2 linked regions of the Homo sapiens genome follow. The protein of the gene in region 1 interacts with the protein of each later gene in a pairwise test. Each region holds a gene or a part of one and is shown in the gene's direction. Other genes may lie near its edges. The genes, in order: TBX3 and CA8.

Region 1 (7,421 bases):
TTGCCTCACTCTGAAACATGTAAGCTTATCAGTCACAATATAAAGTCTTAGACTTGGTTTCAATATTATGTGATACATAGGAAATCAAACCCAAGATTACGGGTGGTTTATCTTTCTTTTTCTTTTCTATTCTTTCGTTTTATAGGCGAATGTTTCCTCCATTTAAAGTGAGATGTTCTGGGCTGGATAAAAAAGCCAAATACATTTTATTGATGGACATTATAGCTGCTGATGACTGTCGTTATAAATTTCACAATTCTCGGTGGATGGTGGCTGGTAAGGCCGACCCCGAAATGCCAAAGAGGATGTACATTCACCCGGACAGCCCCGCTACTGGGGAACAGTGGATGTCCAAAGTCGTCACTTTCCACAAACTGAAACTCACCAACAACATTTCAGACAAACATGGATTTGTAAGTTTCATTGCTCTCTTCAGTAAAATTTTCTCCTCCTTCACTCAGTCAAAGGCAGTGCTTCCCATTTCATGAGTTTCAGCCCAGACTTCTCCTTTGCTTCTCCCTAAGCATAGCAAACTTGTCCTCGTCTGGAAAAAGGATTCGGGGTGTTTCTCTCCAAATAATGGAAGGCCTGGCGTTCTAAAAGAAATGGGGCAAGAAAACTTACCGGCTTGTGTTCTATAGCAATTCCAGCTCTTTGGTAGATTCCTGACCTGAGAGTGAAGTTAAAAACCATTTTTTAAGAGCTAAAATCAATTTCAAGGCTATGTATTCCTAAAGGATTTGTTTTGTTTTAAAATATCATACTTCTGTTTTGAAACCAGTGATATTATTTTCTCAGGAGAGTTTACGTTTCGGAGCCTTGACTCTGTTGGTTAAATGGTGTGAATACATTTTTAAAAACTCGTTCTTTTACTAAAAAAAGAATTGGGCTTAGGTGGGAGTCCGGCTTACCCTAAATGAGGCTTAGATCTTCAGAAAAAAATGGTTTGTGTGTTGGGAGTGTATATATGGATTCAGTGACAGTGCTTAGAAACTTAGAAAACTTTCATTGCTTGTAGATATCAGGCAAAGGACCTTTTGCGCCTTTTCCTACCCCTCCCCAACATTTCAATAAAATAAACAGCGTGATAAGCAAGGAGTAAGCAGAAAGATTAGGCCCAGGAAGACGCGAATGGCGCGGAAATATCTTCAGCGGGCAGGAATTGCATTTGAAGCCCTTGATTTGATTAAGGCATAAATATTCCTCTCTAGAGTTCAGCCTTTCAGGGCTTTAAGTGGATTGGGCTCGTCAATTAGTGGGCGCTTAAAGTACTGAATCATTTTGTAAATTAAAATGCATGTTTTTCTCTATCTTTTAAGACTTTGGCCTTCCCAAGTGATCACGCTACGTGGCAGGGGAATTATAGTTTTGGTACTCAGGTAGGCTAGGGTTCAAGGTATGAATGATCCTTAGATGGTGAGGGTGGGGGGGGCCCTTTGGCAACTGAGGAGCAATTTGGATTCTCCAGAAGATAACATCTGTGGAGCGAAACGTACCCAGGGGGTACTCCAAGGAGGTGGGCTCGGTACAAGCGTGGTACCCTGCGGTGGGGAAGATTTCAGCCTGGCAGGGGTCCTAAGATCCCGTTTGTTCTGCTAAATCCTTGTTTTATGTATGTCTCCTCTTCCCTGCCCCTGCAGACTATATTGAACTCCATGCACAAATACCAGCCCCGGTTCCACATTGTAAGAGCCAATGACATCTTGAAACTCCCTTATAGTACATTTCGGACATACTTGTTCCCCGAAACTGAATTCATCGCTGTGACTGCATACCAGAATGATAAGGTAAACTCAAGGGGCTTTCCTTTTTAATGGTGATATTTTGCCTTCCCCTTAAAAGCTGCTTTAAGTCAGGATGAGAAAGTTACAAGAGAGTGGAGACGAGAGTCTTGAGTTGTCTTTTGTGATTTGTGGAGCATTTGGGGGGAAAGGACAATGACACCTCGAGGAGACAGAAAAACACCTTGACTAGGTAGGAACAATGCTGAGCAAAAAAACGCCATACTAATTTTGCCACAGAGAAACTCCTAGAACTGCTGTCATTGATGCCACCCACTCCTCCCCCCCTCTTGGGCTTTGTCCTGTCTGTTTTAAGGTTCATCTTCTTCCCCTTGGGGAAGAAGGATCAAGAAGTCACATTCAAAAGGAACCAGCTAAAAATTTAAGGCAAAAGCCATTTGGGATCCTGGGAGGAGAATCCTAGTAGAGACCAGCTTTTCTCCCCTAGCCAGAAATCCTGAGTAGCTGGTCTGGTTTTTATTACCTTTTATGCTGCTGTGTTATGATGTGTGTGTGTGTGTGCATGTGTGTGCATGCATGCGTGTGGTTGGAAAAACCTACCCTGATCACAGGGTCATATTAATCGAGTTGTCTGAGGCTTTTGAGTTGGGGTGGCCAAAGTCACCACTTCATTTGAATTCCCCCCCTCCCCCAGGCCTGAATCTGGAGGTTAGAAGGATCCCCAAAAGGGAAAGCACCTGATATCTAGAGCTATGGTGGCCTGAAGGTCATGGGCACAGAAAAAGTGACCCTTACTGCTGATTCACCAGTTCCCAGATTGGCTGTTAGCAGTTATGGGGTGGGAGGAGGGACTGAAGACCCCTGCTCTGCAATCCTGGACTTCAAAGAGAGTCCATTTTACCTGACAACACACTTCATTTTGAACTCACTGTCATTGTCACTGTCCTTGGGTCCTCTGTGGACTTCATGATGGGGATGTTCCAGCTAAATTTCTTTAGTGTGAATACCAAAACATGATCTTCTCTCCCTGTGAAACCTGAAGTCTTCAATAGAGCAATTTATTCCAAGAACATGAATCCAACCAAGGGTCCCCCTTTCCACCTCTGAGTAACTCTGTGTATATAACTTCTTCTTCCCACCAAGGGGAAGGGATTTGAAAGATTACACACTATAGCATTTTTCTCAAAGTGCAAAATGCATGTGCCCTCTAGACCCAGAATCCTGTGAAATGAAGTTGTTAATGTAATAATAAAATGTAGCATTTTTGATCAGACAAAAAGGCCATGGGCCTTCTCCACCTAATGGCCATGGCAGAGCATATAAATGAAAACAGATGTTTCCAGTGGTCATTCAGTACTGTAACTGTCAATATTGTAATTTCCTCAAACCACCCCCCAGGCAAAGAAAAAAAAAATTAAACTCACTCCCGCACTCACTCCCGCACAAGGGTAGTGAAACCCCATAAATCATTTATTGGATTCATGGAAAAGGAGTGTGTGTGTGTGTGTGTGTGTGTGTGTGTGTGTGTGAAGGGAGTATGCTATAATTTATGATTAATTGCACTGTATAAAAATCAAAATGAAAGCATAATTTTAAGATCTACAGGTTTTCCCTCTTGATGACTTTGACAACACTTCCATGTCTAAACCCAAACTGTTGGCTGCCCAAAGAAAAGAATTTCTTTGAATAATTTCATCCCCAAATCCCTGGTTTGGCCTCATATAGGAGATACAAGCCCTGCCACAGTTTCCTTATTATCTCCTTTCCCTGGCATATCTATATGACTTCTGTTGGCAGTCACATCTCTAGACTTGTTGAGTTGGGAAAAACACCCTCAAAACATTCTAGAAAATGAGAACAATGTCTCTGTCTTGCTTGTGTCTCTTCCAATAGATAACCCAGTTAAAAATAGACAACAACCCTTTTGCAAAAGGTTTCCGGGACACTGGAAATGGCCGAAGAGAAAAAAGGTGAGTTGAAACAATTATTTATTAGATAGTTTAGAAAAATCCCTTTTTTTAGGATCCAACTCTGAAGTGTTAGAAGTGAGATGCAGGCACTTATCCTAAGAGCGGGTGGAAATCATTCACTTTCCCCACTGCTACATGCTTGCCGCTATCAGTATACCCAGGACAAGTACTTTTCCTACCTCCTTACCTTTAAGGAAATTAACTAGGCTACACCATACTTATCTCTGGAAGAGAAGCATCAGGGATAATAGATTATACAGGGATGCCTATTAATTCCTAATTAATTTAAGTTCATCCTAGGCAGGTCCCAGAAAGAACCATGCCATTGAGAAAATACTTGGGAATTTTTGCAATCCTGTCTTCCAAATACCATCAGACAGAGCTGGGGACTTCGGAAAGATGTATGGCTCTCTCCCTCCTTCGTGGGGACATGTATCATTTTGCATTACGTAGACAGCTGGAGAGTATATGAAAGAGGGTCTCCCCTCCCCCACCCCCTTTCAAAGAATTTCTAAAATCCAGAAAATCACCCCCAAATTTTTAACCTATCCCCTTGGGGCGGGCATTAAAAAATAATTGCTAACAGCTAAATATATTTTTATTCCAATTAATTTGTTAGTAAAACGATTACAGTAAAGTGCAGCATGAAATAACCACTTCCTCCCAATCTTAGCCACCATCCAAAATTTGGGTATGCTGGGGACAGACAGCGTTGTGTTTGCAGGATTGGACACCCGGTTCTCCCTATATAAGGCTGGCAGTCCAGCTGTCTCTGACTAGATCCAGCCTCTTCTCCTGCTTTTAAATAAAATTTCACAGCCCAAGCAAATGCCTTTTCCTAATGAAACCCCATCTTGAATAAATGCAACTGAAGCCTCCTTCCTTTCTCCCTAACCCTCTGCCACACTCTTCAGCCCAGTTAGAGGGTCAAGGACAAAGCTTGGGTCTATGTGGCTGCCCTGGGGCAAGCAGATTTCAGTGAATTAGCGTTGTCCCTGGGCAGCAGGCAGGGTGTGAGGTATGTGTGTGCCGCTTTGGAAAGGGTAAGGGAAACAAAGAGGGGAAATGTATGTTACATTCTGTAACCTGGGTGTGGGCTTCTGCCACAGAAAACAGCTCACCCTGCAGTCCATGAGGGTGTTTGATGAAAGACACAAAAAGGAGAATGGGACCTCTGATGAGTCCTCCAGTGAACAAGCAGCTTTCAACTGCTTCGCCCAGGCTTCTTCTCCAGCCGCCTCCACTGTAGGGACATCGAACCTCAAAGGTAAACCATGTCACCTTTGTGATCACTGGACTCCAGTCCCTCGTGGCCTGGAAGAGTTGAAGGGGGATGGGGCACCAACCAGGGCACTTGCCCTTTAAAAGCTAGAAGCCTTCTAAACATCCTTAAACAGAAGCCAGAGTTCAAAAAGGGCTATCAGGTGTGTCTCCCCTTCCCCGCTAAGGCAGTAGAAGGAGAGCACAGAGGCCTTTCTCCCAGATCCTTATTTGGCTGGTGGGGAGGGGAGGTGGGTGTCTGTTTGCATACTACCTCTTGGCAAGCAGCTTTGAAAACTTGCTTGAAGCGCTTCTCTCTTTTCTCTCTGTCTCTGTTTCTTTCTCCTCCCATTCTCTCCAACCAACAGAGGCTCCAACTGCTGACTTTTCACTGTCTTTGAACTCTAGGTTACAATGTGTTGGACTGGGTGGGGGGGAAGCAAGGGACTCTGCCACCTGGAACCGAGAAGGTGGCCTAGAAAACATCCAGCTATAAAGCAACAATTGACCTGGGAGAGGAGGTGGAGCACTGGGGATCTGCGGTGGGGGTAGAGCTGGGGGAGGTGGGTGAGGAGTGGACAAGATGGCTCAAATCCCCCCTCAGTTACCTGTGTTTAAAGAGCAAGCAGTATTTATTTGGAAAGACACACACACACACACACACACACACACACACACACACACACTCTCAACGGGAAGAAACCTGTTTTTTAGTGAAATAAAATGCAAGTCCTTTATGTCTTCAATCCATTTAAGCTTTAAACATAAAATAGGATCCCTTTTTCTTTTCTTCTGGTGGAACACCCACAGAGGGTGTGGTAAAAGCGAAAAAAGAATCTATGATCGTCCCCGGGCTGTGAGCCATCTGTCCGACACTCATCTCTCTCTGCAGGGACTGGGGCAAATACAAACGGTTCAACTGAGTACTGGTGTTGAAGGACAGGTGTCCGTTCTGCCATTATCAATTCAGATGTCAGGGTTCTTGCCAAACAAATCCTTCCAGAGTAATTCACAAATTTGTGGAAGGTGCTGCTCTCTGTCATTCACTGATTTTTTGATAGTAATTAGAATATGTTCCAGCTGTGAGTTTTAATGTTACTTTTTACTTTTAAAAAGTTAATTTGCAATCGAATGGGGAGATGCATGTGAAATCTGCCACTGTAGGAACTCAAAAAAAGAAGTAAAATTCATTAAAATAAGAAGAGCTACTGATTAGGGGATTGTCCATCTAAGGGAAAGTTTAAACTCTGGGTAAATACTTTAAATTCATAATCGCTTATTGAATTTTCCAGCAATGTTGTTGGGCACGATTATCCCCATTTTGCAGATGACAACACTGAGGTGCAGAGAGGCTAAGGGGCTTTCCCCGGGATTACACAGCCACTAAGCCACGAGCTGGGATTCCAACTTGGGAACTGGAGTTCCGTTGGCTCATACTGGAGATAACGCCCTTCTGCCTTGGTTTTTTCCTTCGCCTGTGGTAGATTTATGTCCCAGCGAGGGTGAGAGCGACGCCGAGGCCGAGAGCAAAGAGGAGCATGGCCCCGAGGCCTGCGACGCGGCCAAGATCTCCACCACCACGTCGGAGGAGCCCTGCCGTGACAAGGGCAGCCCCGCGGTCAAGGCTCACCTTTTCGCTGCTGAGCGGCCCCGGGACAGCGGGCGGCTGGACAAAGCGTCGCCCGACTCACGCCATAGCCCCGCCACCATCTCGTCCAGCACTCGCGGCCTGGGCGCGGAGGAGCGCAGGAGCCCGGTTCGCGAGGGCACAGCGCCGGCCAAGGTGGAAGAGGCGCGCGCGCTCCCGGGCAAGGAGGCCTTCGCGCCGCTCACGGTGCAGACGGACGCGGCCGCCGCGCACCTGGCCCAGGGCCCCCTGCCTGGCCTCGGCTTCGCCCCGGGCCTGGCGGGCCAACAGTTCTTCAACGGGCACCCGCTCTTCCTGCACCCCAGCCAGTTTGCCATGGGGGGCGCCTTCTCCAGCATGGCGGCCGCTGGCATGGGTCCCCTCCTGGCCACGGTTTCTGGGGCCTCCACCGGTGTCTCGGGCCTGGATTCCACGGCCATGGCCTCTGCCGCTGCGGCGCAGGGACTGTCCGGGGCGTCCGCGGCCACCCTGCCCTTCCACCTCCAGCAGCACGTCCTGGCCTCTCAGGTATGGATCCTTCTTCCTGCCTCCACCAGTCTTTCCACCTTTCGTCCAGTTTCCCTGTCCTTTGCCAGCAGACCCTCACCCGATCCCTTTGGCCTAGTAGCTGTAATAATTTTTACTGAGCCATTACCGGGTTCAAGGCTTAGCTCATGGAGTTATTATGACTTCATTCTCCCCATTCACCCCAAAAATCTTTAAAATTTTTCCGAAGTTAAAGGCTGTTTCCAGCAGAGTAGATAGGTAGTAACAAAGATAACAGCTGGACACAGCACTTACTTTCAGGCATTCTTCTAAGTG
Region 2 (7,793 bases), on another chromosome or scaffold:
GGTTACTGTATGGCTGATGGCACAGGGAAACGAATTCCTAAGTGCCTACCATGTGCTACATGGGGGCACACAAAGCAGCATCGTTGTTCACACCTGGAATGTTATTTGCTCACATGCTGCCCACCCAAACTGTACCCATTTCCTTTAGTTTGCCTCAAATGCCATCTTTTCCAAGAAACTTTTCTGAATCATTCCCATTAGTATGAAAATCCCATCTTCCTTAAATGTAGTGGTACCTGCATTTCTATTTAACATATTTCTTGTATTATCATTATTTACTTGTATTATAGTTATAATTATTTACTTGTATTATAGTTTTAATAATTATAATTATTTACTCCTCTCCTCCCCCAGAGAACTGTGAATTTCTCGAGAGCAGAAGCAGTATTTTATTCCTTTTTTTTTTGGTTCTCCCACAGTGCCTAGTGCCTTGCTCTTTGGGAGCTCATTGTTTAGAGGAGAAGGTCATAAAATACATATTTAAAATACAATCTTAACTTCAGGGTTAGAGATCTATACAGGGCATTGTGAAAGCACTAAGAAGAGGTAACTTTAACCTCTGTGGCTTAAACACATAAGGGGTTTTGTTTGGCAGAAGGTGCCCTAGAGCTTTTGGTGACTTGGGAGTCACCAATGTAATTATCTTAAATATTCCTATTTCAGCATAAGTCATTTTGGTGCTGAATTCATGTAGGGCCTCAGGCATAATTCGCATGGTCTGAGAGAGGGGAAGAGAGCTGCGGTCCATGTTCCTTAGAGAAGATGGGGATTTTCTATGGATAAGGGCTTTCTCATTCTGCCATGAAGTGGTAAGGGCCCTAGCTGGGGTTAGGGCGTCCAAGAAATTGGTGAGGTGAAGATAAGAGCACTGTACTAGACTGTTTGGTTTCTTTGCAGGCCAGAGATACTTTTTTTTTTTCTTTGAAGAAAAAGATAAAGGCAAAAACAGCATTTGAGCAAATAAAAATTATCCTTGAACTCACCTTTACTTGATGGGCTACTATGTCTGTTTTTGATAACGCCTAAATCTTTCTTCTAGGAAATGGCACGTGCCACCTCTACTCATATTTAATTCGTCAAAGAAGTCACATGGTCAAGCAGTGAAGGGGCAGCAAATGATAGAGACAATGATGTCATCTCCAATGACTACATGGAGCCCTAGTCGTTTGTTTCTGAAGATAAAAGACCAAGAAGAGGTCAAAAAAAAGGAGGCTCGTAAATGTAACTTTAAGCAGGTGAAATAAAAGATTAATCAGTTGAAAAAAGTAATTTAAAAGGAAGAAGTAAATTTTTTTATCAACAAAGTTTGAAACCTTCAGAAATCAAAATATATATAATGAAGAAAATTTTGCTGTCTTTCCTGACAAAAGAAAAACTAGACATAAGGAATTAAACAACCATAGGAAAAAGTGCCTTACCTGAGACATAAGCCTAGAGAAGTGCTTATTTTTAGTGTATCTGAATTGGTTTTGGCAGTCACAGATGGCATTTAAGGGAGCAAATAGATCCGCAATGAGCACTTGCATGATTCGGCATCTTTGTTCACACCTGGAATGTTATTTGCTCACATGCTGCCCACCCAAACTCTGCCCATTTCCTCTAGTTTGCCCCAAATGCCATCTTGTTCAACTTTTCTAAATCATTCCCATTAGTATGAAAATTCCATCTTCCTTAGATGTAGTGGTACCTGCATTTCTATTTAACATATTAATATTGCGTATTGCCTTGTATTATAATTATTTACCCCTCTCCTCCCTCCAGAGAACCATGAGTTCCTTGAGAGCAGAAGAAGTATTTTATTTTTTATTTTTGGTTCTCCCACAGTGCCTAGTCCAGAGCAGCGCACATGAAGGAACCCAATTCATTGCTGTTGAAGTTTATGAATTACAGTTTGTATAGGAGCCACGTGACATGCATATGTTAGCTGTACCCTTGAGGTGATCCCAGAGCATAAGATGCACATAAGAGGAGGTCAAATTTATGACTCTAGGGCCTAGACTCACCGATACAATAAGAAAGCTTTGGTACGGTAGACAAGCAGTGAGGAAAGACAGGAGCGGGCTGTCTAGGTTGTGGACTCTGGGAAGCGACCTTAGTACTTTGGTTCCTCTGACATCTAGATTAGTTTGTCCCTTTTAGATATTTCTATTTATATTCTCTTAGTATCAAATGGTAGTTAGTTATATAGGTCTTAGTTTTAATAAATTGTTCTACTAATATGGTTTGGTCTTAGCTATGCAAGCACTAAATGTGAGCAATATAAAGTTAATTTAAGGGATCAAATATAATATTAGGCTGAAAGCCTATTAAAAATTATAGAGGAATATGTGGAAGACACATTCATAATACAGAGTATGAATATTTTTAGATTCTCTGGTATTGGATTTAGATGTGCTTGTTCTATTTTGTAAAACAAAGAATTGCCCTATATCTTTGATCTGTGTGTTTAGATTTTTTTAGTGACAGACACCTTATAATAACTAGAAATAGAAATTCCATCTTTGGTGGTAATATAGTGCAGGGACCTGAGAAGAGAAGGTCTTAAGGTGCTGTTAATTAGCAAAAATCTGAACCCCACAGTCTCAAAGCAATTAAGGCTGTTAATTGAATATTTGGGTGCTTAGAGGATTGGCTCATATGTGGCTGGACAGGGAACCCTAGGCTTGCATACAGGAGTTACATTCTACAAATAATCATGAACAATTCAGAAGGAGCAAATATAGGCCAATGCTAGTAGTCAACTGCATATTTGAATAGTAATACATTGCTGGCTATATGCAAAATTGTCTTTTTACTGTAAAAGTAAATACTAATAATTCAATCTTTCAGCCTATCTTTTGTAAATATGGCACAGTATTTATTCATGGAAAATTCAGTTTTTTACCATGGTGATTGTACCATCCTCTGGTTTGATAAACATCTCTATGATTCACCTGATATTTTAAACACAGTTGGTGGTCACACAATGGCTACAATGTCATACTTAGGCACATTTGGGGGACAGAGGAGAAAGGCCATTGCTGATGAGCTCAGAGTGGCAGTGCTTTTATTATCCAATTCCTTCATAGCCTTTGTATGGGCTTCCTTAGCTGTGGCATTTAATTAACGTGTGAACATACTTCTAAAAAGAAACTTAAAACAAATAGAAGATTACAAAAAAGTTTTCAAGAAAGGAAAAATAAATGTTCCTTTTAGAAGACCTTCAGTGAAAAGTAGTTAATATTTTCAGTAGTGCTTATTATTTTTAATAGCTCTGGCTTTGGGGTAGGCTTCTGCTTCTGCCAGTCCCAGGCTTGCAAAGATGCAAACGACCGTCCACTAAAGAACACCCAGAATGCAGTGAGTGAAAAATGAATTTAGTTTCTCAAACTGTTTCAGTCCTCTGCACAGTTAAGGAAAAGAGAAATTATATGAATGCTTAAAATCCACCGGTTATCCTCCAAGCTAATGTTGGCCAGTAGTTTTCCATATATTTGGTTAAACCTTCCAGAAAGTGGCAGAATTGAGCGAGTTGAGGGTTCCCCCCACTTCTTTCCATCTCAGTGTACTTTCTGGAGCAGTTTGTAATTTTTTTTTTTTAAAAGCTATGAAGTGTCTTTTTAAAAAGTGGAGGTGCTTAGCAGGCAGTAAAGGATATGAGCACTGAAACTAAACATTCCCAAACGGATCATTTCCATCCTTATTTGAGGAATTATGCATTCATAAGGCTGGTGTGATTTAGGAACAGGTTATTCAAAGTGCAAATAGATATCTTCATGAATGACCAGAGCATATAAAAAACAAATTGTACTTAAGGTCCTAACTCGAGTTTATTGTGCACATATATCTTCTAAAAATGTGGAGTTAACCTACTTAGGGGTTACTGACCAGGGCTTTTAAAAGGCACAGGAACAGAGGGCTGAAGTCGTTAACACTAGACTGAGAAGCACGTTTAAGGGTAACAATGCCACCTCTTTGGATCAGAAGAGTTCCTGTTTGTTATGCAATGTGTGCACTTCATTATTTACACGATTTCACTAGGTGAATGGGAGCTGTGTACACAGCCAGGTGAGCCTGCAGCAGCGCCCCAGACTCTGACAGCGAACACCCTCTGTCTACTGCCTTCTGCTAGCCCTGCTTTGAAACAATACCCTTTTCTGGAAAAAAAAAAAAAAAAAACACAACCCTAAATCATAGCTACTTCTCTAGATAACAACCATTTTCTTTTCTTAAACGTTTTTAGGAATTAATAGAACTTTCTTGGAAAAATTTCCAAACTCGTTTCCACTGCGCTGAACGGACGATTTAAAAAGTAAATACTCAGAAGATACTAAGAAGATTCCGCTGGAGAGTCTCTTTTTATTGTGTTACGGGGTCTCCTAGCCCTCTCCTTTCTCCTACCCACGGCAGCCCATCTCTCTCCTCCAGGACCCCTTCTTTTTGGTATTTCCTGGAGTACGGATGAAAATGAATAGGTGAGCAGCCTCTGGGCTAGGCCAGGCACACAGGGGTCCCGAGTGACCTTGGGAGACTTGCGGGCTTCTGGAAGGAAGGCTCGGGCGGCCAAGCAGGAGTCGCCGCAGCGAGGAAGCGCCAGGAGGCGGCGGGGGCGACCCCGGGGGAAGGGCGGGCGGGGATGCGCCGAGGTTTCCGTGACTTGGGACTAGTCGCCCCGAGGCGCATTCTAACTGTCGGCTCCCCTGGCCCCAACGGCCAGAGAGAGAAGGGGGCGGATCCTCGCGTACCAGACACGCCCCGGTCGGGTATAAAATTCGCCAGGCGCTCGCTCCCCAGGCCACAGCCGCTCCCTCGCTCTGCTGGGGCCTCCGGACGCGCTTCCCACGCGGGTCTCTGGAACACTCGGTCCGAACGCACGCCTGCTTGCACTCACACTGCGGTTCACACCCGGAGGCGCTCTCGCACTCACACTGCCGCTCACGCGTGCTCACACTCCCCCACGCGCGCTCCGCTCCGGCTCCAGCCCCGCGCCCAGCGAAGGCGCAGGCACTGCTGCCGAGAGCGCCGAGGGGCCCCGCGGCCTTCCCATGGCGGACCTGAGCTTCATCGAAGATACCGTCGCCTTCCCCGAGAAGGAAGAGGATGAGGAGGAAGAAGAGGAGGGTGTGGAGTGGGGCTACGAGGAAGGTAAGTGGCCGCGAGTCGGGGTGTCCGGGGTCCCGCGGCGGCGTCAGTGTCTCGCCGAGCGCGGGACTCGAGTCCTGCTGCCGCTGCGCGCTCCGAGCACCCCCACGCCCCCTCTTTCCCACGGGGGTCTCTGCCACTTTCCCACTCCCCTGGTGCGTTTCGGGCGGGAGGCGCTCCAGGGAGGCGTGCTCGCCGCCTGCGCTCTTCCGCCGCCTGCGCTCTCACCCGGGAGCCTTCCGCAGGGCTGGCGTTCGCACCTGCTGCGGTCCGGAGGGCGGGCTAGCCTCCAAGCCGTGGCTGTACCTTTTATGTCTTCTGAGTAGTCAAGAAGAGCAGCGGTACATTTTACTAAACACCTGAGGAAGACAGTGTTAGCGTGAAGAATTCGTTTTTGGCTTGGAGACTTTGGGGAGAAAGTGTTTCTGCCTCTGGTCTTTTCGTGAAGCCTGCTAGCAATGCTCAAGTCTTTCTAAAACATGTCCTAAATTTCAGACTGAATCATTGGGTTTGGCGAGAAGCGGTTGACTTTCTGAAAAACTCGAGTTTCCTAGATTTATTCCTAAAGACCTAGGGCTCCTATTAGAGCCAACCAGTAGTGCTGATGTTTACTACATATGTTGAAACCAATATAGAATATATAATTTTAATTATAAAAAATTTGGAAAGACTATGGGAATATGTATGTACACAGATATATACATATGCACACTTTAAAATACTACACTTGCATTTCTGATAAGGGGCGTCTATTTACTAGCATGAGAGTTAGGGTTCTGACTGTCACTAAGTATGTTGAAAGTTACAGCTGTTTCCCAGGTACTGAACGTAATTGAACTAATAAGCAGAAGAAATTGTTCTGGTATTCTTTTTTCCTAATCACTTAAAAATGACCCAAATTTCCTAGAATCATAAATTATTATGTCTTTGTTGACAAATACAAATAGAATATTTTGCTAGTCCGGGATTTTGTGTATGGTATTTGATAATAACAGATCATTCAAATAATGAATGCAAAAACAAATAGAATTACCATATTTCATCTGTATAGTGATGGTATCATTACTCTCTTCATGATATCAAGGGTTCTAAGTGTTTAGTTTTTACATGTTAAATTTTACTGTAATTTATTTTTTAACCTGTTTTTAATTTATTTCATTTTGTTCTTAGGTGTTGAGTGGGGTCTGGTGTTTCCTGATGCTAATGGGGAATACCAGTCTCCTATTAACCTAAACTCAAGAGAGGCTAGGTATGACCCCTCGCTGTTGGATGTCCGCCTCTCCCCAAATTATGTGGTGTGCCGAGACTGTGAAGTCACCAATGATGGACATACCATTCAGGTTATCCTGAAGTCAAAATCAGGTATTTTAGAAAATATGTTTGTGTGGTCTTTTAAACTAGAAGTCAGCGTAGAGTTATTGAACTGTGATTTAACTTGCACAATTTAAAAAGTACAACTGACGTATCTCTATTTTCAGGATACCTTTGTATTATAATATAAAGCATTTTTGGGAATTACCTTCTGAAACAATTTTGAAAGGACAAAAGAGTGAAATTATGAAGATTATCAGTCGGTTGTTCTGCTTCTTATGATGTTACTGGAAAAACCTTAGTTTGATCACCTTATACCTTGTGAAATATGAGGACAGGTACATGCAGGTGCAGTAATCTGCGTTTTGTCCAAAATTGTTGATTAGCTTAAATCACTTAGATAATCATAATTCTCTGTTTTGCTACTTTGTGAAACCAAAGATTAGAATTTATTGACATAACGTGGCATTCAAGGTAGACTTCTCAGGTTAATTTTCTCTACTGTATTAGTTTGCCAAAAATAATTTTAACTAATAACAATAAGAAACAGCCTCTAAACTCAGCCAGAGATTTAAATGGTAAACAAACCTCTTCCTTTTATTTATTTATTTATTTATTTATTTAAGTTCCATCCCATGAAACTTCTCCTACCACTTGCAAACCTATTTGAGATGGATCTGAAATGTTCTGTGCAAAAGTTGTTAGGTAATTACCAAGGAAATCAGTTTTTGGCTTTATCGTAGGAAAGAGGAAATCAGATTTTTAAAAAATGTAGCATTAATAGCATGCATTTCATAGTGAATAATAACTGTCTTTTTCTTTTGGGAAAAATTAAAGTATGTTGAAATATTAGGACGTACTTGATAAATAGAGACTGTGCTCGAAAATTAATTCCAAGTTGATAAAGTTGATACCTCAAACTATAAAATCTTTAGGTTTGTTATTAATCAAGGCAGCTGTTGATTTCCAGCTATGGATTTATTTTATTCATTGTAAATGTTTCTAAGCTTTAATTTAGAATCCATGAGATAGTCATAGATTCATGTAGTCTCCTTCGCTGTTCTGAGTTTAGTCAGCATGTGAGCATTGCCCAAAAGAGTTACTGGGCTTTATATGTACTTAGTCAGAGTCAGTTTAAGATGGAAATTTCGACTTGAATTTTTTTGGGGGTGTGGGTTTAGCTTTGATGGGACATTACTTACTGTTTTTTAAAGGATATTGTAAAATTATTGAATGCTGACTGTTCTGGCATATAAAAAGCAATTTAAAGAAGTACATGTGTGTTGATGTGTTGAGATGCTTTGAACTTCCGGAAATAAATGTTTATATATCCACAAAACAAAAATACATTTCATGTCAGG

Evidence for each region.
Region 2: the proteins of TBX3 (region 1) and CA8 interact in binary tests that used the Homo sapiens proteins (3 or more experiments, as listed by UniProt).

The regions. Positions count from the first base shown.
Region 1 is NC_000012.12:114,673,871-114,681,291, reverse strand, and holds part of TBX3 (T-box transcription factor TBX3), read left to right. Parts: intron 1-145; coding exon 146-413; intron 414-1,319; coding exon of another isoform or gene 1,320-1,379; intron 1,380-1,640; coding exon 1,641-1,787; intron 1,788-3,635; coding exon 3,636-3,712; intron 3,713-4,821; coding exon 4,822-4,979; intron 4,980-6,456; coding exon 6,457-7,127; intron 7,128-7,421.
Region 2 is NC_000008.11:60,278,379-60,286,171, reverse strand, and holds the start of CA8 (carbonic anhydrase-related protein), read left to right. Parts: upstream 1-4,771; 5' UTR 4,772-5,024; coding exon 5,025-5,124; intron 5,125-6,291; coding exon 6,292-6,483; intron 6,484-7,793. UniProt on the Homo sapiens protein: Does not have a carbonic anhydrase catalytic activity.